4 linked regions of the Homo sapiens genome follow. The protein of the gene in region 1 purifies or fractionates together with the protein of each later gene. This does not show direct contact. Each region holds a gene or a part of one and is shown on either strand. Other genes may lie near its edges. The genes, in order: TNFRSF17, FAM171A1, TARBP1 and OPA3.

Region 1 (7,403 bases):
GGCATGAGCCACCGCGCCTGGCCAAAACTGGAGCTTTATTATCAATAGGTTAGAATTCTTTCCCCCTCCCACCTTTCTCTCCCACCCTCACCCCCCACACTGGTATACATGCTTGTTTTTAAAAACTCACGTTAATAAAAACTTAGATGTCAGGAAAAAAAAGAGTTTAATCATGAAACCAAGGAAGTTTCTACCATTAAGCTCCCAACAGTAACCTAGAGAAATATATCTAACATAAAGAGTTTCCACAGTTAGAGGACAAAAAGCTGTATCGGCAACTGAAAAATACAGTCATCCTAAAGAGATCTGACACATCATCTATTCTGACAAAAGATTTTTAAAGTGGCACTGCTCGAGTCGAAATGGTTAATTACCTAGCAGAAATTGATTTCTCTATCTCCGTAGCACTCAAAGCAGCTGGCAGGCTCTTGCAATAGTCATTCGTTTTCGTGGTGACAAGAATGGTTGCGCCTTCCTCCATAGCTGGGAGTGGAAAGCAATGGTCAGAGTCGACCTTCGGTTTGCTCTTGATGCAGTCTTCACAGGTGCATTCTTCCACCGTGTACTCGAGGCCTCTCGGAAGAATAATTTCATCACCAGTCCTGCTCTTTTCCAGGTCAATGTTAGCCATGCCCAGGAGACCTGATCCTAATTATGTAGAAACGGAAACATTAACCCAAACTTCACAGAGAATGTGGTCATGAGAGTCTTAGCAGTACACATCGGGACTCAAAGCAATGTGAGAGAGATTTTTTCATTTTTTAGAGGTGGGGTCTTACTGTGTTGCCCAGGCTGCATTCAAACTCCTGGGCTCAAGCAATCCTCCCACGTTAGCCTACAGAGCAGTCGGGACTACAGCTCCATGCCACCACACCCAGCTTGAAACAGATCTTTTCAGTAAAAAAGAATGAGTATGTGCTGGGCCCTGTGGCTCACGCCTGTAATCCCAGCACTTTGGGAAGCTGAGGCGGGCAGATCACTTGTGGTCAGGAGCTTGAGACCATCCTGGCCAACATGATGAAACCCTGTCTCTACCAAAAAGTACAAAAATTAGTCGGAGGTGATGGCACATACCTATAGTCCCAGTTACTCAGGAGGCTGAGATGGGAGAATTGTTTGAACCCAAGAGGCAGAGGCTGCAGTGAGTTGAGATCACGCCACTGCACTCCAGCCTGGGCCACAGAGCGAGACTCCATCTCTAAATAAATAAATAAATAAATAAATAAATAAATAAATAAATGCATACAGAAATAGGGCAGTGGCTGTACATGCTTGGGAATCCAATCATGAGCAAAGGTGCTGCAGAAGTATTTTTATCTTAAGAGGCACTTAAGTAGAACATTCATTTTTCTGGGACTGGTTCTCTATTGCTTAAAAATAATTATTTTTTAGATGATTCCTCAAATAATTCAGGAGCAACTGGTTATTCATTTCTAACATTTTTCAGTAGTAAAATGTTCACTCAAGCAAAGAACACCTATATTTGTATAAAAACATGACCATAGATCTTGACAAATATGCTTTTCCTGACAGTAGCAGACCTGGCTAGGAGTTTCTGATAATGTGGCATTTAATCGATGTGCTAACTTTAGTCAAAGAGACTGATGTTTCCCAAGAAAGCCTTAGTACTTTCAATAGAGTAATTAACAGTGGAAGAATCCTGGAGAAGACTGACATTGTAGAAAATCTGCCAAGGTGTCAAAATCAGAATGAAGATGGCTCACCTCTACCAAGTTCATTTAATGTAACAATGTTCTAACACATTCGAAAGGGCTGTAACGAAGTGAAATAGTCAACGCTAAAAAAAGAAAAGGAACTGAAACTCACAATAGCCATCCCCTGGAAATAGATTTCAAAGATTCACCATCAAACCAACCTGTGTTTTTAAACTCGTCCTTTAATGGTTCAGAGTTTATCTTCCTTAGCAAAAACATTAGCACGAAAACTGCCAAAGAAATTATTAAGCTCAGTCCCAAACAGGTCCAGAGAATCGCATTCGTTCCTTTCACTGAATTGGTCACACCTTTATGAAAAGAACATCAGACAGATAATGAGCTGATAACATAATATTCACATACTTTATTGTTATTATTTATTTATTTATTTTGAGACAAAGTCTTGCTCTGTTGCCCAGGCTAGAGTGCAGTGGCGCGATCTCGGCTCACTGCAACCTCCACCTCCCAAGTTCAAACAATTCTCCTGCCTCAGCCTCCCGAGTAGCTGGGATTACAGACCTGTGCCACCATGCCCAGCTAATTTTTTGTATTTTTAGTAGAGACAGGGTTTCACCAGGTTGGCCAGGCTGGCCTCAAACTGCCGACCTCAGGTGATTCACCCACCTCGGCCTCCCAAAGTGCTGGGATTACAGGTGTGAGCCATCCACCGCACCCGGCTGTCATACTTGATTATTTTGCTAAAATAATGAATTATGGATTGTTTTGATAGCAAAATAATCAAGTATGGATTATTTCCATTCAATCACCTTAATTAATGAACATTGACTTTTAAATTCTAAATATCACTTAATTAGAAGAGCTGATTTTTAAAAAAAATCTATGTTGCTAATAGTGCTGAATCATATCAAGTTCAGTTCCAAATAATTACTTTGTTTCCATAAACATTAAAATCACTGCCTTGCTTCCTTTCTCTTTTTGATTCAAGAAAACTCACCATCATGCCCATTATGTTGATTCTCTGAATAAGCAGTCCATATAGACAGAATAGTTCACACCAATGAATAATCGTTCAAGCAATATTACTTACTTGCATTACAATAACGCTGACATGTTAGAGGAGGAGTATTAGAAGAACATCGAAGTTGACAAGGTATGCAAGCATGCAACAAACTGTCAAAATATTCATTTTGGGAGCACTGCCCAGCCATCTGCAACATGATCACAAAAAGAAAACAAGGGAGCTACAGAAAGAACAGCCTGGAAGGACAAGTAATATCTCTACAAGAATTCCAGAGCAAATGCAGCAAGAGCAGCTAGAATGTTGAGAACAATGAACTTCGCCTGCTTCGTGGGTTCTTACGGGGGCTGTCTGTGTCTTCGCGGCAGCTAAGGATTTGAATACCACATCTAATTCAAGTTTCTAAGTTTGAGTCTTGGATGGGGTAAGAGACAGGGTGTAAATATCAGGGCATATCACATCTGAAACAGAAACTGCTTATTTATAGAAGAAATTTCTCAGCCAGGTGACAGTTGCAAGATGCAGACAAGCCCACAGCATCAAGCCGAATGTTCAGTAACAGTTTCTGGAACATCTGTTAATAAGCTGTACTCTGTGAGAGGTGCCAGGGAGATAGACAAGACAAGGTCTGTGCTGTGCCCCTTAAGATCTTAACATTGAGGCCAGCTGCAGGGGTTCACACCTGTAATCCCAGGACTTTGGGAGTCAAAAGGCAAAAGGATTGCTTGAGCCCAGGAGTTCAAAATCAGCCTGGGCAACATGGCGAAACCCTGACTTTACAAAAACATTTTAAAAAGTAGTCTGGTGTAAGCTGGGCGCCGTGGCGCTCTCCTGTAATCCCAGCACTTTGGGAGGCCGAGGCAGGTGGATCACTTGAGGTCAGGAGTTCCAGAACAGCCTGGCCAACATGGTGAAACCCCGTCTCTACTAAAAATACAAAAATTAGTCAGGCATGGTGGCAGGCACCTATGATCCCAGCTACTCAGGAGGCTGAGGCAGGGAGACGTGCTTGAACCCAGGAGGCGGAGTTTGCAGTAAGCCAAGATCAGGCCACTGCGCTCCAGCCTGGGTGACAAAGCAAGACTCTATCTCAAAAAAAAAAAAAATTCTACAGGAAGATCAGAGGTGATGCACTAAGGAAGACGCACAATGCCACTGACAGAAAAAGAGACATTTAGGGTAAGAGCTCGTGGAAAGAGGGCTGAGAGGAAGATAGGTTTGGGGTATTATAATAATAATACAATAATCTATGTTCCATTGTTGAAAATTTAGAAATACAGATGAGCAGATAAAACCATTTTAAAAATCCACAGTCCAAGCATCCAGAAGTCATCACCGCTAACACCTGGTGTATCCCAGAAGTTGCAAACAGACCTGCCGATGCGATGTCTTTTGTTTCACCGATCCCTGAATTCTAGATAGATACATTTATATAGTGCATTTTTCTGTTTACATAAATGGATCACTTGAATTTGCCTTTTTTTTTTTTTTTGACAGAGTCTCACTCTGTCTCCCAGGCTGAGTGCAGTGACACAATCACAGCTCACTGCAGCCTCCACCTCCTGGGTTCAGGTGATCTGCCCACCTCAGCCTTCCAAGTAGCTGGGACTACAGACATGCGCCAGCACGCCTGGTAAGTTTTGTATTTTTTGTAGAGATGGGTTTTTGCCGTGTTGCCCAGGTTGCTCTCAAACACTTGGGGTCAAGTGATCCACCCACCTCGGCCTCCCAAAGCGCTGGGATTACAGGTGTGAGCCACTAAGCCCAGCTTGAATTTGCTTTTAACCATACTGAGTGAAATACCCATATAGAGACGTCCAGATGTTTGTCAAAAATGCAGGACTCAATTAAAATTTGAGGAAATGGCAAACTCCTAATTCAGTATAGTGATTATCTCTGAGGTAAGTGGTGGGGAAGAAGGGGAGCACAAAAAAGGCTTCACCTGTGTTTATTATATTTTCTTTATTAAGCTGAGTGGTGGATACATTGATATTTGTTGTTTTCCTTTTGTTGTATTTTTCTTATTCTTTACACTTTCTTAAGGCCCAAGGAGTGTGCCAAGGAAACCTGCCATCCCTTCTACTTTATTTCATCCTCCAAGCACCCCAACCTTTAAAAACTTATTCTTTTTTTTTTTTTTTTTGAGCTGGAGTTTCACTGTTATTGCCCAGGCTGGAGTGCAATGGCGCGATCTCGGCTCACTGCAACCTCCACCTCCCAGGTTCAAGCGATTCTCTGGCCTCAGCCTCCTGAGTAGCTGGGATGACAGGTGCATGCCACCACGCCTGGCTAGTTTTTGTATTTTTGGTAGAGACGGGGTTTCACCGTGTTGGTCAGGCTGGTTTCGAACTCCTGACCTCAGGTGACCCACCGGCCTTGGCCTCTCAAACTGCTGGGATTACAGGCATGAGCCACCTAGCCTGGATGATTTTTTATTTATTTGTTTGTTTGTTTGTTTGTTTGTTTTGAGATGGAGTCTCCCTCTGTTGCCAGGCTGGGGTACAGTAGTGCGATCTGCAACCTCTGCCTCCCGGGTTCAAGTGATTCTCCTGCCTCAGCTTCCGGAATAGCTGGGATTACAGGCATGCGCCATCATGCCCAGCAAATATTTGTATTTTTAGTACAGACAGGATTTCACCATATTGGGCAGAATGGTCTCAGTCTCCTGACCTCGTGATCCACCTGCCTTGGCCTCCCAAAGTGCTGAGATTACAGGTGTGAGCCACCGCGCCCAGCCACTGATAATTCTTGTTTTTAAAATTCATATTATTAAAAAATAAGTATTCAAACAGTGCCAAAGATTTTTCAATGAAAAGTAAGTCTTTTTCCTACCCTGGATTTCCTCTCTCTTGCCAGAGGCAGTAATTACTGTCAGTCTTCCTCTTTTTTTTTGGTTTTTTTTTTTTTTTTTTGAGACAGAATCTTGCTCTGTCACCCAGGCTGGAGTGCAGGGGCGCTATCTCAGCTCACTGCAAGCTCCGACTCCCAGGTTCATGCCATTCTCCTGCCTCAGCCTCCAGAGTAGCTGGGACTACAGGCACCCACCACCATGTCTGGCTAATTTTGTTTTTGTATTTTTAGTAGAGATGGGGTTTCACCATCTTAGCCAGGATGGTCTCGATCTCCTGACCTCATGATCCGGGATTACAGGCATGCGCCACCATGCCCAGCTAATATTTGTATTTTTAGTAGAGACAGGGTTTCACCATGTTGGGCAGAATGGTCTCAATCCCCTCACCTCGTGATCGACCCGCCTCGGCCTCCCAAAGTGCTGGGATTACAGGTGCAAGCCACCGCACCCAGCCTTTTTTTTTTTTTTTTTTTTTAAGACAGGGTGTTGCTCTATTGCCCAGGCTGGAGTGCAGTGGCACCATCAGGGCTCACTGCAGCCTCCACCTTCTGGGCTTAAGCGATCCTCCCACCTCAGCCTCCTGAGTAGCTAGGACTACGCACATGCCACCATGCCCAGCTAATTTTTGTATTTTTTGTAGAGATGAGATTTCATCATGTTGCCCAGGCTGGTCTTGAACTCCTGGGCTCAAGTGATCTTCCTGCCTCAGCCTCCCAAAGTACTGAGATTACATGTGTAAGCCACAGTGCCCAGCCACTGTCAGTCTTCTGTCTTTCCAAATAGAGCCTCTGTTTATGTCTGTCTATTCAGACCCTACCTATTTTATTTGTATCCACCCAGGAGGCAGATAGAGCATATTATACAACTGCTCATACCTTTTTTTTTTTTTTTTTTAAACAGGGTCTCACTCTGTCACCCAGGCTGGAGTGTGGTGGCAAAATTTCAGCTCACTGCAACCTCCGTCTCCCAGGTTCAAGCCATTCTCTTGCCTCAGCCTCCCTAGTAGCTGGGATTACAGGTGCGTGCCTCCAGGCCTGGCTAATTTTTGTATTTTTAGTAGAGACGGGGTTTCAGTATGTTGGCCAGGCTGGTCTCGAACTCCTGACCTCAAGTGATTCGCCCGCCTCGGCCTCCCAAAGTGCTAGGATTATAGGCGTGAGCCACTGCGCCTGGCCTCTTTTTGTATTTTTAAAGTAGTCCATAATAAATGCTAAAATCATGAAAATAAAATGCAGAAATTTAAAAAAATACTTTTTTTTTTAAATGCAGGACTTGAGCCTAGGAAAGATTTTGAACTTAGATATTGATCAAAACGTCAAATTCCTCTGGGGTCCAGGTGGTGAGGTAAGTGGGAGAGGCTGCCTAGGCAGGACAGGGAGAAGCTGAAGCAGCTGGCCCAGGAGGCTCCACTCCCTCAGCCTCTGCCAGATTGCTGACCTTTGGAAGACAGGCAAAGGAGACAGGACAAACATGATTAGAGAAATAGGGAGAGAACAAAAATTATCTCCCAGGCTGGGTGCAGTGGCTCACACCTGTAATCCCAGCACTTTGGGAGGCTGAAGCAGGTGGATCACCTGAAGTCAGGAGTTTGAGGCCAATCTGGCCAACATGGTGAAACCCAGTCTCTACTAAAAATACAAAAATTAGCCAAGCGTGGTGGCGTGCATAATCCCAGCTACTTGGGAGGCTGAGGCAGGAGGATCGTTTGAACCTGGGAGGCAGAGGTTGCAGTGAGCCAAGATTGCGCCACTGCACTGCAGTCTGGGCTACGGAGTGAGACCGTGTCTCAAAAAAAAAAAAGAAAAGAAAGAAAAAAAAATCTCCCATAACAGTCAAGCAAGGAGAGATTTTAGCCTGA
Region 2 (7,025 bases), on another chromosome or scaffold:
AAAGTGGCTGAAAGTAATTTAATTGAGAAGGCAAAGGAACACTAAAGTTGCTTATCTTTCCCTGAAAGGAAATTGAAAAGAATTTCTCCAGAAAGCTGCCTGGGGTCCCTAGATGACACTTTGGCCATCTTGGTTATCTTATAGGTCATAAACATGACATTTAAGATATTTAAGATGACTTTTACAATATGCTCAAGCCTTACAAAGGAGCGTGGTGTGCTTGTAGCTAACATCTCTTTCTCAATTCCACAGGAACGTGGCTGAAGAGCGGTCTGGGTCTTGTGCACCAGGAAGGCAGCCAGCTGACGTGGACATACATTGCCCCCCAGTTGGGGTACTGGGTGGCCGCCATGTCCCCTCCCATCCCAGGTAACACGGAGCCAACACTTGCGATGATGCGGATCAGTTGCTTTGGTCTTTGAGGGTTCAGGCTAAGTATGCTCTTGAAAATAACTTCAGCAGGGCGATCACATCTTATTCAAAAATGGTTAAAAGTCTGAAAATGAGATGATGTAAAGAAGGTATTTTGCGGGGGTGGGGGACTTCTGGTTGGAAATCTTCCATCTAGGGTAAGAATAATGCATAGAAAATAGTCTTGAGTGGCTGTTTTGTTCAGACAGCTGCCATAGGGAATTCTTCATCAAAAGCCCACAGAGACCAGCAAGACCTCCTCCCTAATTCCTGAAACAGCTGTGGCCTGGTATAGGCACACATGTAGGGAAAAGCACTCCACAGAGATGCTAGTGGGAAGTCACCACTGGGGGCAAAAAGCCTGGTGGGGCATTTCCAAAATGGCTTAAACGTAAACCAGTTGCTTTGTATCTACGAGAATCTTCCCCTCCATTTAGGATATGTGCATTAATGCATATCTTTCAGAACGTGACCAATAGTTTATTTTTTTTAACCTATGTTACCCCCAAAAATATTCTAGAATTGTTGAGTTTTGTTTTGTTTTGTTTTGTTTTCAAAATGGTCATCTCAGGAGAATTATTTCCAGTGATAGCTTCTGTTGCTCAAGCTGCCTTTAGAATCTATATTACTTGGACTGCCTTCTGCCTTCATTAGTAAATCTCTTTCTTGGTGGCAAATCTTTATGCTCAAATGGCAAATCTTTATGATTTTTCTTTTTAAAGACATCTAAAAGTCATGCACATTCAAGACTGGTGAATAAAGTAGGTGACTTAGCTAGGTCGAAATGTGCTGTGATTAAAAGGTGTCTCTTGTAAATGAACCATGAAGGCAGTTCTAAAATGCAAGTTCAAATATTTTAGCAATGGAATTATCACTGGAATTAGCACTTAGACTCACAAAGTAACTGATTTGATGGAGGTCTTTCCTAAACAGGTGTGGAAAAATGTGTTACAATGACTTTATATCACCATACTAAGAAAATTTACACTTCACATCTGTTTTAAGAGTAATGTGTTTCCCTTAGCCGGGCGCGGTGGCTCACGCCTGTAATCCCAGCACTTTGGGAAGCCGAGGAGGGCGGATCACGAGGTCAGGAGATCAAGACCATCCTGGCTAACATGGTGAAACCCCGTCTCTACTCAAAATACAAAAATTAGCTGGGCGTGGTGGCACACGCCTGTAGTCCCAGCTACTTGGGAGGCTGAGGCAGGAGAATCGCTTGAACCCAGGAGGCAGAGGTTGCAGTGAGCCGAGATTGTGCCACTGCACTCCAGCCTGGGCGACAGAGCGAGACACCCTCTCAAAAAAAGAAAAAAAAGATTAATGTGTTTCCCTTGATGCTATTGTTTTTGTAGTGATATAAGCATGAACCACACGTAGAAATGCCCCATTCTCTGAATCTGAAATACCTAGATTATGACTGAAGAGAAACAAAGGAAGGAAAAGAATTGTCTTAAGCACTAAAATAAATGCCATAAAGCCCACGCATTAAAATGAACTTTAATTTTAGATGTATTTCAATCTCAGCTATTAGTTTTCCCATCATGCAGTAGATCAGTACATGCTTTTTGTGTGTGTGTGTTTTGGTTTTGTTGTTGTTGTTGTTCGTTTGTTTTTTTGAGACAGAGTTTTGTTCTTGTTGCCCAGGCTGGAGTACCATGGCATGATCTCAGCTCATGGCCACCTCCGCCTCCTGGGTTCAAGCAATTATCCTGCCTCAGACTCCAGAGTAGCTGAGATTACAGGTCTCCGCCGCCACACCTGGCTAATTTTTGTATTTTAGTGGAGACAGGGTTTCACCATGTTAGTCAGGCTGGTCTTGAACTTCTGACCTCCGGTGATCCCCCCGCCTCAGCCTCCCAAAGTGCTGAAATTACAGGCATGAGCCACTGCGCCTGTCCAGTATATGCTTTTGTAAGGCAGCATGAAGGAACTGCCAGACGTAGCTCCCCTGAGAGCTTCCTAGCAGTGAAGGAAGAGACTCAAGGCTATAAAAAGCATACACAGGCCAGGGCATGGTAGCTCACACCTGTAATCCCAGCACTTTGGGAGGCAAGGCAGGATGATCTCTTGAGCCCAGGAGTTCAAGACCAGCCTGGGCAACACAGCAAGACCCCACTTCTAAAAAAATTTTTTTTAATTAGCCAGTGATGGTAGCATTCACCTGTAATCCCGGTTACTTGAGAGGTTGAGGCAGGAGGATCCCGTGAGCTCAGGAGTTCAAGGCTGCAGTGAGCTATGATCATGTCACTGCACTCCAGCGTAGGTGACAGAGTGAGACCCCATCTCAAAAATAACACAAAGCATACCCACTACAGCCTCTGATGGTATTTAATGTAGGGATACATATGTCAGTCATCTCACAACCCACCTTTATTACAAAAAATTATACTAATATTGGGCTTTCATGAACTCAAAAGCAACAACAAAATAATTTGGGTTATGTTCCTTAACTCCTTGAAGTGAAGTATAGCTGTGAATTTTATAAAGAATCGTACTGGCAGAGATTAAAACAATAATGCTGGCCAGGCACGGTGGTTCATGCCTGTAATCCCAGGACTTTGGGAGGCCAAAGTGGGCGAATCATGAGGTCAGGAGATCAAGACCATCCTGGCTAACACGTTGAAACCCTGTCTCTACTAAAAATACAAAAAATTTGCCAGGCACAGTAGCACACACCTGTAGTCCCAGGTACTCAGGAGGCTGAGGCAGGAGAATTATCCGAACCTGGGAGGCAGAGGTTGCAGTGAGCCCAGATCGTGCCACTGCACTCCAGCCTGAATGATAGAGTGAGACTCCATCTCAAAACAAAACAAAACAAAACAATAATGCTTTGAGTACTTAAAGGACGAAGCATCAGTATTTGGAAATACTTTTATGTGTACCCTAAGTTTCTTGGTGACTCCTGACAAAGCTTTGCTACATCCGTGGGAATTGTCTATTGTCTTTGCATGAAAAAATTGTTTCTCTGGGCCGGGTGCGGTGGCTCATGCCTGTAATCCCAGCACTTTAGGAGGACGAGGCAGGTGGATGATGAGGTCAGGAGTTCAAGACCAGCCTGGCCAAGATGGTGAAACCCCATCTCTACTTAAAAAAATTAGCCAGGCATGGTGGCGGGCGCCTATAATCCCAGCTACTCAGGAGGCTGAGGCAGGAGAATCACTTAAACCCAGGAGGCAGAGGTTACAATGAGCTGAGATCACACCACTGCACTCTAGCCTGGGTGACAGAGCAAAGACTCCGTCTCAAAAAAAAAAAAAAATTGTTTCTCTGAACAAGTAAGCCAGTATCTAATTGTCAGTTATTTTTCCAATTTTTGTAAACTTTAACCCCCTCCTCGCACTCCATTGAAGTAATTATATCTGAAAGAGAATGGTGTTTCTTGTGAATTTAAGTAACATCACTGTTTTCAAAAACTGGTAAATCTTGGGTTTATCTAGGTCTTAAATTAGGAGATTTGTCCCCTTAAGAAGATTTTTTAAAAAGTCTATGTCTTAGAATGTCAAAAATCAAAAATAAGCAAATGGGTGTCTGTGGTGTTTAATAATCATAGCCATGCTACCCTGAAATAATATGAGGCCAGTTCATTTCGACCCATGTATTCATACACTGCCAGGAAACTCGGACACCAATAAATACCTAAATATTGGAATGTTGGGAGGTTTTTGTTGTCGCTGATCTGTTGTTAGTAACATTAAGATAGATTTGTACTACTACGGAACATAAAATGTGAGTTAAGCTACCTCTTGGGATTTTTTACAACATAAACTTAAAATATTTTTATCTTTGATAACCTTATGTATAAGTTCTAAAGAGATCTCTGGCCACGTAAGGTTAGCTATTTTGAAAAGCCATTGTAGAGAAAGATCTTGTTTTTAAAGATGGATATCATTTTAGTCATATTTGATACCTGTATTAAGTGTTAAAAGTTGCTGACTTTTTTAAGTCACAGGAAATGTATGTCATACATTTAAACTGATTCATTTGGGCTAGGGGCTCTCCAGACGGTAATGATTGACTGCCCGGGAAAAGCGAAAATAAAACTTTGTAGGGTTTTTTTTTTTTTTTTCACTGCAATATAAAATTCCCAGATAGGCCATCTTTCTGAAGGTGAGAGTCCCAGTCATTATATCGTCATGCGTTCATTTTCTTGTATGAAAAGATCATATGGCTGGGCACAGTGGCTCATGCCTATAATCCCAGCACTTTGGTAGGCCGAGGCAGTGGATTGCTCGAACTCAGGAGTTCAAGACCCACCTAGGCAACATAGTGAGAACATTGCCTCTAAAAAAAATTTATAAAAATTAGCCAGGTGTGGTGGTGCGTGCCTGTAGTCCCAGCTATGCTGGAGGCTGAGGCAGGAGGATTGATGCAGCCCAGGAGGTCAAGGCTACAGTAAGCCATGATTGTATCACTGCGCTCCAGCCTGGGTGACAGAATGAGACCCTGTCTCAAAAAAAAAAAAAATTAAAAAGATCATGTATTTCAAATGCGGCACATGCTACCAAGTGAGGCGCACTTCTCCGCTTAGGAGGGGCCCTTGACGTAACCACATCTTGTCTTTGAGTATTCAAAGTTCTCCTGGCTGTGGGAGCTTCCATAATAGTCATGCTAATCACTAATGCAATGCTGGTGGTACCCCAAGTGCATGATCCAAGGGCGTTTTCCTCTGGCCACTGCTCTATGCCCCAGCTAAGAAGAGTAAGCACAAGACACTGCGTTCTCAATGAATGATCCCTCTTTTGAGTTAAAGGTGTTCAAAACTCTAAATGCCATTTTCTGACCTTCTAGGTCCCGTTGTAACACAGGACATTACCACGTATCACACGGTGTTTCTTTTGGCCATTTTAGGAGGAATGGCTTTCATACTTTTGGTTTTGCTGTGTCTCCTTTTATATTATTGCAGGTAAAGTGTTACCATTTTGGCAATATCTTTTTTAATTCACAGTTTCTTGGGCAATTGATACTTAGAAGCATTAATATGGAGGTGGGTTTTTTTTTTAATTTTTCTAAATTGAAGTACTTTTTCTTCCCATGAAAAAGTAAGAACTCACATTTGTGATCTAAGTTGCAACTTAACAAATAGTATGTGTAAAGCATGCTGCGTGGATAACATTGCTTAGAAGGGGAGTTATGAAAAAGAGTTTAACAATAGTCATCTGATTTATTCAGAGTATTCCTGAACGCTGATTAAGAGATGATACTCTGAAGGGCAAAGCAGAACTCTTCTTATTTGGGCCAGGGACGTTGGCTCACACCTGTAATCCCAGCACTTTAGGAGGCCGAGGTGGGCGGATCACTTGAGGTCAGAAGTTCGAGACCAGCCTAGCCAACGTGGTGAAACTCCGTTTCTACCAAAAATACAAAAATTAGCTGGGCATGGTGGCACACGCCTATAATCCCAGCTACTTGGGAGGCTGAGGCAGGAGAATTGCTTGGACCCAGAAGGTGGAGGTTGCAGTGAGCCAAGATTGCACCACTGTACTCCAGCCTGGGCAACAGAGCAAGACTCCATCTCAAAAAAAAAAATTATTCTTATTTAGATGCCGTGTCTGTTTAGTTTGCAAGAATATTTATTGTCAACTCTTGAGTAACCCCTTTGAAATAAGTAACTTGGCTTATAAAAGCCTTTAAGTTTAGCTGTTTTAAAAAGGCATTATAGAGGAAAAATTTTATTTTTAAAAATGCAAAGCATTTTAGTCACGTTTGAGACTCTTTAATAAGTTGTTGACTTTTTTAAGTCATAGAAAAATGAATGTCATACATTTAATTCATTTAGGCAAAGGGCTCTCCAGACAGTAAAAGATGAAATCTCTCGATTATCCTACTCTAATAAGGATAAAATAAGGATAAGGGCCAGGCATGGAGGCCTAGCACTTTGGGAGGCTGAAGGGGGAGGATTGCTTGAGGCCAGGAGTTTAAGACCAGCCTGGGCAACACAGGCCATCTCTACAAAAAAACTAAAAGTCAAAAATTAGCTGGGCATGGTGGCATGTGCCTGCGGTGCCAGCTGCTCGGGAGGCTGAGGTGGGAGGATCACTTGAGCCCATGAGGTCAAGCCTGCAGTGAGCTATGATCATAGCACTGCACTCCAACGTGGGCGACAGAGCAAGCAAGATGCTGTCTCAAAAAAAAAAAAAAAAGACAGGGCGTGGGGTGAGAAGGCTTTTGGCTGCTCCTGACTTGTTTTGTTTTGTCTCTCCCCATGGAAATTGAGAATTAGGATTTTACCTGAAACTTGAAACTTTTTCATTGTGAGAATCACTAATCTTTGGCTTTGGATTGTGTCTTTGGGCGCAGGAGGAAGTGCTTGAAACCTCGTCAGCACCACAGAAAACTGCAGCTCCCTGCAGGACTGGAGAGTTCCAAAAGAGACCAGTCCACGTCCATGTCACACATTAACTTGCTGTTTTCACGCCGAGCGTCAGAATTCCCTGGCCCGCTGTCCGTCACCAGCCACGGCCGCCCCGAGGCCCCCGGCACGAAGGAACTGATGAGTGGAGTCCATTTGGAAATGATGTCTCCGGGCGGCGAAGGGGACCTGCACACCCCCATGCTCAAGCTCTCCTACAGCACCTCCCAGGAATTTAGCTCCCGGGAGGAGCTCCTCTCTT
Region 3 (7,025 bases), on another chromosome or scaffold:
TTAGTAGGTAAGAAAAGCAAAGGAGGATTGCTTATGCGATGACTGTTTACAGTGGTGTCAGACTATGCCGTGTTCACGAACACTTTAATATGTTGTTGTAATCTGATTTTATCCTCGTCTTACAAATGAGGAAGTTGAAGCCAAGAAAGGCTGAATCACTTGCCTAACGTCACATAACTAATTATATTAGTCAAACCAGAATTCAGATTCTAAATTTATCTAATGGGTACGAGAGTAAAAGACTTGTCATGAAAAGAGCTTGAACTTGATTGCCTTTGGAGGTATTTAGTTGTCAGTAAATTGCACTTATCCAAATACTGTCCATCATTAGAACTGATTACTTCTGAAACACTGTTTTTATTAGGCACATACTGGTTTATTACACACAGTTAGAAGTACCAGAGTACAAGTTCTGCCTCCTCTCAGGGGTTTCCTAAATTAATCCCCTAATTTCTGAGAAGATGAGAAATATATATAGACAGTTGCTATAAGATATAAATGAAAGTATATAGTTTGATCAGATGTAATAGTTTGGAGAATATATCATTAATAATTAAGTTGTATTTTAAATGTTATATATTTCTTTGTTATTCTTAAGGGAAGAAATTTAGATTTTATAATTCTCTTTTCAGACCATATTTTACATCCTTCCACGCCTTTCAGGCCTTATTGAAGATGAATGGATCACCATTGATAAATTTACCAGATTCACTGATGTTCCTTTAGCTGCGGGATTTCAGTGGTACCTTTCTCAAACTCAACTTAGTAAACTAAAACCAGGTGACTGGTCTCAGCAAGACATAGGTAAAAAATAATTTTCATTTTATTTTTTCCCCTTGTTGATCTGGTTAGATTTTTTTGATTTAAGTTACTAAGGACAGGTAGTTAATAATAATATCACTTTCATTGACATGGTGACCTCTGCCTTTCCACTTAGGGAAAAGACAGTGAAAAAGTGTGGTATAACTTTGACTAACACTTTTAGTGAAACTTAGCTTTAAAGCTATTTAAAAAAAAAAAAAAAGCCAAAGGAAGCCTGATCTGCTTTATATAAAGCTGATGGCCAGTGGCCTCCCTTTTAAGTAGTATTGTTCGTTAACACTCATTGCTTTTCTACTATATATTTCTGTAAAAATAAACATTTCCAAAAGGACCAAATGATGAAATCTCTTTTTTTGTCCTTCATAGGAATAAAGCAGAGCTCTTGATTCTAGTCCCCTCTTGGTTGGTTGGACGCCGCTTCATGTTATCCCTTCTCCTCTGTCTCATCCTTCCCTGTACAATGACTCCTTTCCACCAGCTTCCTCTGGGACCCACATTCCTCTCCTCCCCCTCCTCCCCCTCCCCTCCCTCCTCCCCTCCCCCTCCCTCCCCCTCTTCCCCCGCCTCCTCCCCCTCCTCCCCCGCCTCCTCCCCCTCCTCCCCCTCTTCCCCCTCCCCCCTCTTCTCCCTCCTCCCTCTCTTCCCCCTCTTCCCCCTCTCCCCCTCCCCCTCTTCCCTCACCTCCTCCCCTCTTCCCCCCTCCTCCCCTCTTCCCCCTCCCCCTCCCCTCTTCCCCCACCTCCTCCCCTCTTCCCCCACCTCCTCCCCTCTTCCTCCTCCTCCCCATCCCCATCCCCCTTCCCCCCTCCCTCTTTCCCCTCCTCCCCATCCCCATCCTTCCCCATCCCCCTTCCCCCTCCCCCTTCCCCCCTCCCCCTCTTCCCCATCCTCCCTCCTTCCCCTCCCCCATCTTCCCCCTCCTCCCCCCTCTTCCCCCTCCTCCCCCCTCTTCCCCCTCCTCCCCATCCCCGTCCTCCCCCTCCGCCTCCTCCCCCTCACCCCTCCTCCCCATCCTCCCCCTCCCCCTCCTCCCTCTCCTCCCACTCCCCTTTCTCCCCTTCCCCCTCCTCTGCCTCCCCTACTCCCTTCTCCCTTCCCTCCCTCTCCACTTTCCCATCCCCTCCCCCTTCCCCCCTCCTCCCCCTCCTCCTCCTCTTCCCCTTCACAGTCAAGCTGTCCTAAAAACCCAAGAATCAGGTTCCCTAACTCAATTTAAAAATGACCGTCTTAATGACTGTAGGCTATCTTCCTATCAGTCTGTCACTCACATTTTAGCCTCATTCTGACTCTCCCCAGCCGATTACCACCTTTGAAACTTCTTTCAGGAAATTAGAAATTTTCTTTCGGTTTCTTTTACACAGTCCGAGTGGAAAATGGACGCTGCCCTCAGATTGCACCTGCCCATTCTGTGCCACATGTTTGCCAGTCTCCGGCCATCCTGCCTTTCCTCCTTACTCTGACCCTTCTCATTCTGAGTCCCCCACATGCCCCTGACATCGGTGCTTCTCCAAACTTTCCATGTCTTCAGGACTCACATGTGACTTGTTGAAAATTCAGATTCCATGTCCCACCCTTAGATTTTTTTTTTCTTTTTTTTTAAAGGCCAATTATGGGTCTGGAACCACCCTTAGTTTAAATTCAGTATCTCTGGAGGAGAGTTCTGGGAAAATGCAATTTTTGTCAGGCCTCTGGATGGTTCACTAATGTGTTTTAAGACATACTATCCTAAATTTATTCATTCAACAAAGATTGATTGATTGTCTCCTGCGTGTTAGACATGAGACCGAGTCCCTGCCTCATAGAGCCCACATTCTTACAGAGGAGACAACAGGGAGCACGTACCTAACACAGTGTCTGGTAGTAGAAGTACCGTGAAAAAACAAAGCAGGGTGAAGAGAGGGACGGAGGGTGAGAAAGACCTTTCTAAGGAGTTGACATTGAGCAGAGACCCCAAGGAAGTATGGGCAAGGCAAGGCAAGGTCTGTCCCGGCGAGAGCTTTACTGGAAAAGGAAGAGCAACTGTGAAGATTCTAGAGCAAAGGACAGTGACAGGAGGCACTTCCCAGTGCGGTTGGGTAGAGCCTGGGAGGAGAGGGAAGAGAGATGGCATTGTAGGCAGCTGTCGAGTTCTGCGTAAAGCGGAGCAGGGAAATACAGTGTTACTGGAATGGCAGAATGGCTAACGAGGTCTGTCTGTTCTGCCTGTTTTTGGTAAAGAGGGGCATGTTGTAATAGACTTTCCATGCTGAGGCTTAAATGTTAGTATCCCCCTAATTTTTTTTCTTTTTTAAAGAAGTTTTACTTCATTTTTAATTGACAAATAATAATTGTACATATTTATGGGGTACAGTGTGGCGTTTTCATGCATATATACATTGTGTAATGGTCAAATCAGGATAATTAGCATATCTGTCACCTCTCACGTTTGTGATGAGAACATGGAAAATCCTCTCTTCTAGCTATTTGGAAGTATACATACATTATTGTTACCTATAGTCATCTTACTGTGTACTAGAACACAAGAGCTTATTCCTGACTGACTAACTTTGTACCTTCTGACCAACCTCTCCTCCTGCCACTGAAGGTTTTCACGGGCCCAGTCTTCTTCTCACTCTTCATCCTCTCCCAGAACACATTTATTAATGTCCCCAACTTGAAACCACCGCCTGTGTAACTATAACTTTCAAATCCTTATCTGCTGCCCAGCCTCTGTCCTGAACAGACTGGACATTAGCACCGGGATATTCCTTAAGCTCTTGAAATATCACCATATCCAAATTCAGTTTGCCTTTCTGCCCAAAAGTGCCTGCTCTGTATGCCCTATTAATGGTATTGGTCAATCATCGTGGAAGTCGTTCTTGTCCTGTTTTTGCTCTTGCCACATCCGTTACCCAGTCTTGGCGATTTCACTTCCCAAAGCTGCCTCCTCCTCCTCTTCTTTAGCCCCTCTTGCCTTGTCTTCATTTAGACTGGCATTGTTTTTACCTGGACTACTACAAAAGCCCCTTAATGGTTTTCTAGCCTCCACATAGCTATTAAAAGAGATTTTTCTAAAACACACAGCAGTACTGTTACTCTCCTTCTTAAAATTTTTTAATGGTTTTTAACTGTGGAATAATTTTTTTTTTTCTTTGAGACGGAGTCTCGCTCTGTCTCTCAGGCTGCAGGCTGGAGTGAAGTGGCACGATCTCAGCTCACTGCAACCTCTGCCTCACGGGTTCAAGCGATTCTCGTGCCTCAGCCTCCCTAGTAGCTGGGATTATAGGCGTCTACCACCATGCCTGGCTAATGTTTGTATTTTTAGTAGAGATGGGGTTTCGCTATGTTGGCCAGGCCGGCCTCAAACTCCTGACCTCAGGTGATCCTCCCGCCTTGGCCTCCTAAAGTGCTGGGATTATAGGCGTCCACCACCACACCTGGCTAATGTGTTATTTTTAGTAGAGTCGGGGTTTCACCATGTTGGCCAGGCTGGTCTCAAACTCCTGACCTCAGGTGATCCTCCCTCAGCCTCCCAAAGTTCTGGGATTACAGGCATGAGCCACCATGCCTGGCCAACAGAATAAATTCTTTATCATTGTATGCAAAGCCCTTTGGTTTGAGCCATCTCCCTCCACTCCATTGCAGGCTGTGCACTAAACCAAGGTACTTGCTGCTGTCTGAACCATGTTGCTTCTACATCCCATGCATGTGCACATGCTGTATCTACTGTCTGCTTTGCAAACTTTTACCTTCCTTCCCGCGAGCCTTCCGGGGTCTTACCCTTTGCTTCTCCCTCCCCTAGACATTAGTAACCCCTTTCTGTGTAAGCATTACCTTCACTGTTGTACTGTGTTACAGTTATTTGCATGTCTGTCCTATCCTAAGTGAACTAAGTGCCACTTGATTGCTCAGAAAGCAGTTTGGAGTAGGACAGAGTTGAGGAAGAGCCTGAGAGGTAGAGTCTCAGTCCTGTACTACAGAGATGAAAACACTGCAGTCAGATAGGCTAGTAACGTTCTGTGTCCTCATCACTTTTGTCAAGAGATAACTGCTTTATACAACATCCTTCATTTTAGAAAAGTTACTCCAGCACTTTTAAAATTATTTTAGATATTTTATTATATTGTTTTCAGAAATAGTCTTTCCATAGAAAATCCCAATCTAATATACTGCTGTTTGTAAGATACATCATTATTTTATGTACTTCCAAGGAAAAAAATGTTACCAAACTATGATACTCTGGATTCTAAGATGTGTCTCAATTTCAGATATGCTAAAACGTGAAAAAACGTGTATCTCATGTTTCCATGAAGTATCATAATATGTTGGTTAATAAAGCTGATTTTGAAAACTTAAAGTTACTACTACAAATGGGAATTGTGTCTGAATCCAACTAAAGTTTTTTACTTAATGCTTTGTTAAGTCTCATTCTAAATTATCTCATTCTAAATTATTTCACATTCTTAAAAATACATATACATGTATACATAAATATATAGAGATTCAGATTTATTTATATGTGGGATTGTTTTCTTTTTCCTTCCCAGGTACTAATTTGGTCGAAGCAGATAACCAAGCGGAGTGGACCGACGTTCAGAAGAAGATTATCCCGTGGAACAGTCGTGTTTCCGACTTAGACCTGGAGCTCCTGTTTCAGGATCGTGCTGCCAGACTTGGAAAGTCAATTAGTAGACTCATCGTTGTGGCCTCGCTCATCGACAAACCGACCAATTTAGGAGGTAAAGTTGGAGTTTTCTGGGAGCTTTGCCTGAAAGCTTTTGGTCTTCAACATTTTTTAATTAATCCACTGCCACGGGAGCTTCAAAGGAATGTATGCGACATGATGAGCTTAGCATTGTGCTGGGAACAATCTTAATGATCCCAGGTGTTCTGTGCAGGACTGTGCAGGACCTGTGAGGTATTTGGGGCTTCAGTGCTCGTTGTTGGCAGCCTTCAGTGTATCAGCGACAAACAGTTTCAGCACCTCAGTGTCTCTGCAGAACAGTGGCTTCCTCTAGTGGAGGTGGGTGGAAAGTAATTTATTATTAAAGTTCTTAAAACAAGCCCGCACATGTACCCGTGAACCTAAAATAAAAGTTTAAAAAAAAGTTTGTATTTGTAAAAATATTTTATAGTGCTCTATCTTTGTGTATTAGTCCTTTTGCATAATTTATAATAGTGCAGTCTTTAATCATTTAAGAACAGTGTTTAAAAATAACATACAGCTCACTTCTGTTTTTCTACTTATTTTTTTATAGGTCACAGTTTTAGAAATCATCAATAATGTAGAATTCTGTTCAGTAAAACATATCCTGTTACAGCCCACTCTTGATGTAGGAATAATTCTTAGAAATTTATATCATGGTGGCTGGGCGCGGTGGCTCACGCCTGTAATCCCAGCACTTTGGGAGGCCGAGGCGGGCGGATCACAAGCTCAGGAGATCGAGACCATCCTGGCTAACACAGTGAAACCCCATCTCTACTAAAAAATAAAAAATAAAAAAAAATTAGCCGGGCGTGGTGGTGGGCGCCTGTAGTCCCAGCTACTTGGGATGCTGAGGCAGGAGAATGGCGTGAACCCGGGAGGCGGAGCTTGCAGTGAGCCAAGATCGCGCCACTGCACTCCAGCCTGGGTGACACAGCAAGACTCCACCTCAAAAAAAAAAAAAAAGAAATTGATGTCATGTTGGGAGAGTTCTTTTTTATAATGTATAATTCTCTCCTTTTTCTTTTAAAGAGTTAAGTTTAGGTTAATACGTTTTTTAACTCTAATTTACTCCAAGCAGGGCTATAACTGAATGAATATTCTGTTCTTTTTAAACTAATATTCAGGTAAAACCACCTCAGCTAATTGATTATCTGCAGCAGAAGAAAACAGAAGGTTATACCATCATTGGAGTGGAACAAACTGCCAAAAGTTTAGACCTAACCCAATATTGCTTTCCTGAGAAATCTCTGCTCTTGTTGGGGTAAGAAGCTTCTTGTGTCCATAGTATATTCTCTGAGCCCCAGACTACTGGAAGATGTTACCTTGTTTTTTTTTGTTTTTGAGACGGAGTCTCACTCTGTAGCCCAGGCTGGAGTGTAGTGGCACAATCTCGGCTCACTACAACCTCTGCCTCATTGGCTCAAGCAATTTTCAGGCATCAGCTTCCCAAGTAGCTGGGATTACAGGCATGCTCCACGAGACCCAGGGTTTCACCATGTTGGCTAGGCTGGTCTCG
Region 4 (7,025 bases), on another chromosome or scaffold:
GGGCGAAGCCACCATCTTCATCGTGGGCGGCGGCTGCCTAGTGCTGGAGTACTGGCGCCACCAGGCGCAGCAGCGCCACAAGGAGGAGGAGCAGCGTGCTGCCTGGAACGCGCTGCGGGACGAGGTGGGCCACCTGGCGCTGGCGCTGGAAGCGCTGCAGGCGCAGGTGCAGGCGGCGCCGCCACAGGGCGCCCTGGAGGAACTGCGCACAGAGCTGCAAGAGGTGCGCGCCCAGCTCTGCAATCCCGGCCGGTCCGCTTCCCACGCAGTGCCTGCGTCCAAGAAATAGGAGCTTGCTGGATGGAACCTGAATTTGGACATGGCCTATGTACCTAACGTGGCCTTCTTCCCGCACCACCCTTGCCTGCGCTGGCCCAGTGGAAACCACCAGGATCTTGATGCAACTTGGCATTTGGTTACCCCTGCTGATAAGAGCAGCCGTTACCTGCCACTGGGACCAGCAGGTGAAGCGTTGCAACATAGCCCCCTCCATCATCCTTCACCTCCTATCCCCCACTCCAAACCAGGACGACCTGCAAGGTCCCAGCCAGCAGGACACCGTGGGCACTCTGGCAAATGAAAAAATGGAACCTGGTCTTGAGCTGAATCAATGTGTTATTGTTACCCCCACCCCCGGTTTACCTGATCAGTGTTAACCTTTACTGGGACACTCATCTGTTACACTGGAACACCTTCTTCTTTTTGTCAATCGGCACAGACCACTGTAAGGAAATGCAGTGTGTTGCAGTGGCCTTTTCTCCCCCTCACCTTCTAAGGTCAGCTCTAGCTGAGCATCAGTGCTCTCTTAAGGAGGAAAAAAACGGTGCGGCTGGGAGCGGTGGCTCACGCCTGTAATCCTAGCACCTTGGGAGGCCGAGGCGGGCGGATCACTTGAGGTCAGGAGTTCCAGACCAGCCTGGCCAACATGGTGAAACTCCGTCTCTACTAAAAATACAAAAATTAGCCGGGTGTGGTGGGGTGCGCTTGTAATCCCAGCTACTCGGGAGGCTGAGGCAGGAGAATTGCTTGAACCCATGAGGTGGAGGTTGCGGTGAGCCAAGATGGCACCATTGCACCCTAGCCTGGGCAACAGAGCAAGACACCGTCTTAAAACCAAAAGTTAACCGGGCGTGGTGGTGGGTGCCTGTAATCCTAGCTACTTGGGAGGCTGAGGCAGGAGAATTGCTTGAACTTGGGAGGTGGAGGCCAAGATTGTACCACTGTATTCCAGCCCGGGTGACAGAGCAAGACTGTGTCTCAAAAAAAAAAAAAAAATCCTGGCTGGGCACGGTGGCTCACACCTGCAATCCCAGCACTTTGGAAGGTCGAGGTGGGCGGGTCATTTGAAGTCGGGAGGTCGGGAGATCGGGAGCTCGAGACCAGCCTGACCAATATGATGAAACCCCGTCTCTACTAAAAATACATAAATTAGCTGGGCATGGTGGCATGCACCTGTAATCCCAGCTACTTGGGAGGCTGAGACAGGAGAATTGCTTGAACCCGGGAGGCAGAGGTTGCAGTGAGCCGAGATTGCGCAATTGCATGCCAGCCTGGGTAACGAGCAAAACTCCATCTTAAAAAAACCCACAAAAGGTCCTGGCCTGCAGTCAATCCCTGGAATCATTGTACCTTCCCTTGAGACCCGAAGTGGACTATTCCAACAGAACCCCCTCATCCTTGAGTCTATGGCACAACCCACTGGAATGGCACTACAGGATCTTTTCTGTGAATGTCCTCCAACCCCCCTTTCCGTGGTGGGAAATTTGATCCTAACTAGGGCTAATCCAGCCTGTCCTTCAGCCTCAGCCCCCTATTTTCCTGTCCTCAGAGTCCCTGGAGCTTGTACTGTGTGGCATGTCCTTTCTTGCCTTCCCCACCTTGCTCAGTAGCATTTCTCAGGGACCCAGTCGAATCCAAGCCCATGGATTCAATTGTCACATCCTTCATCTTCCATCCGTGTCTCCTAATCTGTGTGCTCTTGCTTTCTTTCCTCGGAGCTCTGGACTGACCCGACAGCCTGTCTTCATGTAGCAGTACCCTCCTGCCTCCATAGCCCCCGGTCCCACCCCCATCCTACCAATTAGGCCAGCAGTTGGCCTTAACTGCTTGATTAATTTCCTTGGACTGCCATAACAGATCACCATTGGGTGGTGAACTTGATGGCTTAAGTCCAACAGGAATTTAATTCACACAGTTCTGGAGTCCAGAAGTCTGAAACCAAGGTGCTGACAGGGACACGCTCCCTCTTCCAGCTCCTGGTGATTCCAGGCCTTCCTTGGCTCTGCCTGCAGCTTCACATGGCCTTTTCCCTCTTCTATTTTGTCTCTTACAAGAACACCTGTCATTGCATTTAGGGCCCATCTTAAGTTCAGGATGATCCCACCTCAAGACCCTTAATTACATCTGAAAAAACACTTTTTCCAAATAAACTGTCATAAGCACAGGTCCTGGGGGTTAGTATGTGGACTTGTCTGTTGGGGGCACACCATTCAAGCCATTCAGCCCACTATTCCTCCTCACCCCAAGAGTACGCTGGCGTCCAGGTGCAGTGGCTCACACCTGTAATCCCAGCACTTTGGGAGACCAGGGCAGGAGGGATCTCTTTGAGCCCAGGAGCTGAAGACCAGCCTGGGCAACATAGTGAGACCCCATCTCTACAAAAGTAAAATAAAAAATTAGCCAGGTGCGGTGATGCATGCCTGTAGTCCCAGCTACTTGGGAGGCTGAGGCAGGAGGATCACCTGAGCCCTGGAGGTCGAGGCTGCAGCGAGCCGTGATCGCGCCACTACACTCCAGCCTGGATGACAGAGTGAGACCCTTTCTCAGAAAAAAAGTACCCTGGGACTCCTGCCAACCCCGCGGGCCATTTGGCCTTCCTGCTAGCTGAGAGGAACAGTCTAGGAACCACCCTTTTCTACTGGGTTTCTCTTCCAGGATCTGCCACTGAAGCGGGAGGGGGTGGGTCCCAGTAGCCTGCAGTCTGTCCTTCCGACTGTAGCTCTCTCATTAGAGGAGCTGCAAGGTGATGAAGGCATCCTGAGGCTGTACCTGAACCACCATGTGGATCTCCACAATGGGTACAGAGCTTATTAAAATCAGGAGGGAAACTGGGAGGGTTCTGATGGGGAGAGGCCCAAGAGTCACCCTATGAGCTGGGGAAACTAAGGCCAGGGGTAAGCAAAGGGACTTGCCAGAGATGCCACAGCCAGTGAGGGGCTGACTGCCCAGGGTGGTGAAGTAGTAGGGGCAGAGTGAGAGGCTTGGATTACCCCAGCTGCAGAGTGAGGAGGGAGAGGCGATGGCTGAGCAGAGGCTGGGAGGGTGACGATCTCTACACAGAGGCCCAGACCATCCCAGAGGTGGCGTTGATAGTGGGAGACCCTCTCTATCCCCTCTCAGAGCAGCCCCAGATCACACCAGAGATCATAGCATTGTGTAAACTGGGTGACCATTCCACCTGGGCCCGCTTTTGGGAAGCTGCAGGTGAAAGTGGGAGGGCCGGGCTTTCCCCGACTTCCATCCTCACCTCCCTTCTCTAAAGAGGTAAAACTGGCCTGGACCAAGATCTGCCCAGATAGAAAGCCAAGAAACAGGTTCTGAAACTTTTCTTTTCTTCTTTTCTCTTCTTTTTTCTTTTCTTTTCTTTCGGAGACAGTCTAGCTCCGTCACCCTGACGGAGTGCAGTGGTGCAATCTCGGCTCACTGCAACTTCTACCTCCCAGGCTCAACCAATGATCCTGCCTCAGCTTCCGAAGTAGCTGGGATTACATGTGCCCACCACCCACGCCTGGCTAATTTTTGTATTTTAGTGGAGACGGGGTTTCTCCAAGTTGCCCAGGCTGATCTTGAACTCCTGACCTCAGGTAATCCGCCCGCCTCGGCCTCCCAAAGTGCTGGGATTACAGGCGTGAGCCACCGCGCCTGGCCTGAAACAGCATTTCAGTTCCTTCTGGAAGAGGGGGAGAAGCTGGAGCAGAGGGAACTGACCGAGTGGGTCCTGAGTGGGCTGTGTTTAAAACTGGGAGTGACCCAGGCCAGCTCACGCCTGTCATCCCAGCACTTTGAGAGGCCAAGGTGGACTGATCACATGATGTTAGGAGATCGAGACCAGCCTGGCCAACATGGCAAAACCCCGTCTCTACTAAAAATACAAAAATTAGCCGGGCATGTTGGCACATTCCTGAATCCCAGCTACTCGGGAGGCTGAGGCACGAGAATTGCTTGAACCCAGGAGGTGGAGGTTGCAGTGAGCTGAGATCGCGCCACTGCACTCCAGCCTGGGTGACAGAGTGAGACTCAACTCAAAAAAAAAAAACAGAGGTGGGAGTGTGAACACAGGCAGGAGCTCCAATTCCTGACCCCAGCGCTGTCCTGACCCAGATGGAGTGCTGCTCTCACATCTCAGAGACTTCGCACTCAGCCCTGCCCTGCCCTGCCCTGACAGGCAGCCAGTCATCGTGGGCAGCAGGGCCATCTACTTCCCCCACTGCGGCGTCAGGGGTGGCCAGAGTGTGTGGAAGTGGAAAGAACGTCCTCTCAAAATGCAAGAGGCCAGAGGATGGTTCACTGCTCGTGTGTTCTGCTAGCTAGAATTCTGTGTACCTTGTAATTTGGGGAGAGGGGTTAGAATAAATTTGTAAATGAAGCTGATTATCTTCAAGTTGATGCATTCTTTTTTCATATTTAAAAAGTCCTTGGGACTGGGCGCAGTGGCTCACACCTGTAATCCTAGCACTTTGGGAGGCCAGGGTGGGTGGATCACCTGAGGTCAGGAGTTCAAGACCAACCTGATCAACATGGTGAAACCTCGTCTCTACTAAAAATACAAAAATTAGCTGGGCATGGTGGTTGTGCACCTGTAATCCCACCTACTCGGGAGGCTGAGGCAGGAGAATCTCTTGGACCCGGGAGGCGGAGGTTGCAGTGAGCCGAGATCATGCCATTATACTCCAGCCTGGGTGACAGAGCGAGACTTCATCTCTAAATAAATAAATAAATAAATAAATAAATAAGGTCCATGTCAACCTTAGGAAAAATATCCTTTATTTATTCTTTCACTCAAAAAACTCACTGAGGTGGTCCCGCACCGGGACATGGACCCAGTGTCCTTGGTAGGGCGTCTCCCGCAAAAAAAAAAAAAATAAAAAAAATAAAACACAAAACTCACTGAGTTACCCACTCTCTGCCCCACCCTATGCTGGGGTCACAGTGGTGACAGAGACAGCCCCAGCCCTGCCGTCACCGGGTCTTACAGATGCTCACACGTACATTTCTTTTCCAGTGTTCCCTGCCCCACCCCATAGTTGTTTAGGAAGCAGGGGCTGGGCTGAATCCGGAATCCTCCCTCTGGAGTGACTCAGGACTATAAACCCATTCATCCCAGCTCACAAAACCCTGGGAGGTGCCCTGAGGGCTGTGCCCCTCCCATCTCCTGGCAGGCCCTGCTGTCCCTCTTGTTGGTTTCTCTGTAGGGCAGGCCATTGCCTGGAGGGAGGCAAAATGGCTGAGAGCCACCCCAGGAGAAAATGGGCTTTACATAAGCCCCAACCTGATCTATTGGCTCACGGAGCTACTCCTGGGCTGGTCGCTGTGTTGCTGAGTGGCAGGCTTGGGTCCCCCAGTGGCAATGGCTTGTAGCTGGAGTCGGTGTGGACAGAGAGAGGAGAAGCATGGCAACTCTGAGTGTACTGAGGATCAACTGCACCAGGCTCCATTCTAGTAGCTGGGAGCCAGTTGGGAGCAAGCAGAGGCCCTCACTGGAGCTGACATTCTAGTGCCAGAGACCGGCAATAAAGAAGGAAAGAGTGGCCAGGCGTGGTGGCTCACACCTGTAATCTCAGCACTTTGGGAGGCCGAGGCGGGCCAATCCCCTGAGGTCGGGAGTTCGAGACCAGCCTGACCGACATGGAGAAACCCCATCTCTACTAAAAATACAAAATTAGCAGGGCATGGTGGTGCATGCCTGTAATCCCAGCCACTCAGGAGGCTGTGGCAGGAGAATCGCTTGAACCCGGGAGGCGGAGGTTGCGGTGAGCCAATATTGCACCATTGCACTCCAGCCTGGGCAACAAGAACGAGACTCCATCTCAAAAAAAAAAGGAAAAAGCTAATCCAGCATAGGGTGATGAGGACTGAGAGGAATGGAGGCAGGGTAGGAGTTCCGGACTTACGGGCACCGCTGATCTAGACAGGTGGGCAGGGAGGAGGCAGCGCTTCAGATGGAGGGAGATAGGAAGAGGGCTGTGAGTATCTGTGAAAGTCCTAGGACAGATGTGGCCTTGGCCTGTTCCTGGAACAGCAAGAGTTTCTGGCTGTCAGAATAGAGCAGAGGCTCGCTGACCAAGGCCTTTGGGCCAAATCAAGGGGACCCTTGCTTCCTGTCTTTGTAAATAAAGACTTATTGGAACCCAGGCGCTCATTCGTTTGCATATTTTCCACAGTTGCTTTTGCAGTACAGTGACAGAGCTGAGTATTTGCACAGAGATCCTAGGGCTCTCGTACTCTCTGGCCCTTTACAGAAAAAGTTTACCATCCCCTGGAATAGAGTAAGCGAGGGGAGAAGTTAGGTGAGGGGGCCAGGCAAGCAAAGGCTGCCCCTTGCCTTGATTGGCACAACTGTGGAGGTCATCCCAGCTCTGGAGCCCCAACAGGATCACTCAGGCCTCTGCTTCCACCACATCTGGCTTCAGCTTCCCCCTCTGTGGAGTCCTCCCTCCCTCCCTCCTTCCCCATAGGAAATGACCCCAGTGCTCAGCAGTAACCCCCACTGCGCGCAGATCTCAGAACCTCCACCTCAATCTACAGCCACGTGCCACAATAAGAAGCAGAGTTTTAGGCCAGGCGCGGTGGCTCACGCCTGTAATCTCAGTACTTTGGAAGACCAAGGTGGGAGGATCACTTGAAGTCAGGAGTTCGAGACCAGCCTGCCCAACATGGTGAAGCCCCGTCTCTAATAAAAAGAATACAAAAATTAGCCGGGTGTGGTGGTGCACATCTGTAATCCCAGCTACATGAGAGGCTGACAT

The links.
Region 2: the proteins of TNFRSF17 (region 1) and FAM171A1 purify together in Homo sapiens (affinity purification with mass spectrometry; 2 studies listed by BioGRID and IntAct, with this or other methods). This does not show direct contact.
Region 3: the proteins of TNFRSF17 (region 1) and TARBP1 purify together in Homo sapiens (affinity purification with mass spectrometry; 2 studies listed by BioGRID and IntAct, with this or other methods). This does not show direct contact.
Region 4: the proteins of TNFRSF17 (region 1) and OPA3 purify together in Homo sapiens (affinity purification with mass spectrometry; 2 studies listed by BioGRID and IntAct, with this or other methods). This does not show direct contact.

The regions. Positions count from the first base shown.
Region 1 is NC_000016.10:11,960,815-11,968,217, reverse strand, and holds TNFRSF17 (tumor necrosis factor receptor superfamily member 17), read right to left. Parts: upstream 3,009-7,403; 5' UTR 2,894-3,008; coding exon 2,764-2,893; intron 2,024-2,763; coding exon 1,877-2,023; intron 649-1,876; coding exon 371-648; 3' UTR 150-370; downstream 1-149. UniProt on the Homo sapiens protein: Receptor for TNFSF13B/BLyS/BAFF and TNFSF13/APRIL. Promotes B-cell survival and plays a role in the regulation of humoral immunity. Activates NF-kappa-B and JNK.
Region 2 is NC_000010.11:15,214,288-15,221,312, reverse strand, and holds part of FAM171A1 (protein FAM171A1 precursor), read left to right. Parts: intron 1-252; coding exon 253-369; intron 370-5,202; coding exon 5,203-5,317; intron 5,318-6,711; coding exon 6,712-7,025. UniProt on the Homo sapiens protein: Involved in the regulation of the cytoskeletal dynamics, plays a role in actin stress fiber formation.
Region 3 is NC_000001.11:234,392,161-234,399,185, reverse strand, and holds part of TARBP1 (tRNA (guanosine(18)-2'-O)-methyltransferase TARBP1), read left to right. Parts: intron 1-632; coding exon 633-804; intron 805-5,348; coding exon 5,349-5,540; intron 5,541-5,699; coding exon 5,700-5,824; intron 5,825-6,633; coding exon 6,634-6,770; intron 6,771-7,025.
Region 4 is NC_000019.10:45,546,778-45,553,802, reverse strand, and holds part of OPA3 (optic atrophy 3 protein), read left to right. Parts: coding exon 1-289; 3' UTR 290-7,025. UniProt on the Homo sapiens protein: May play some role in mitochondrial processes.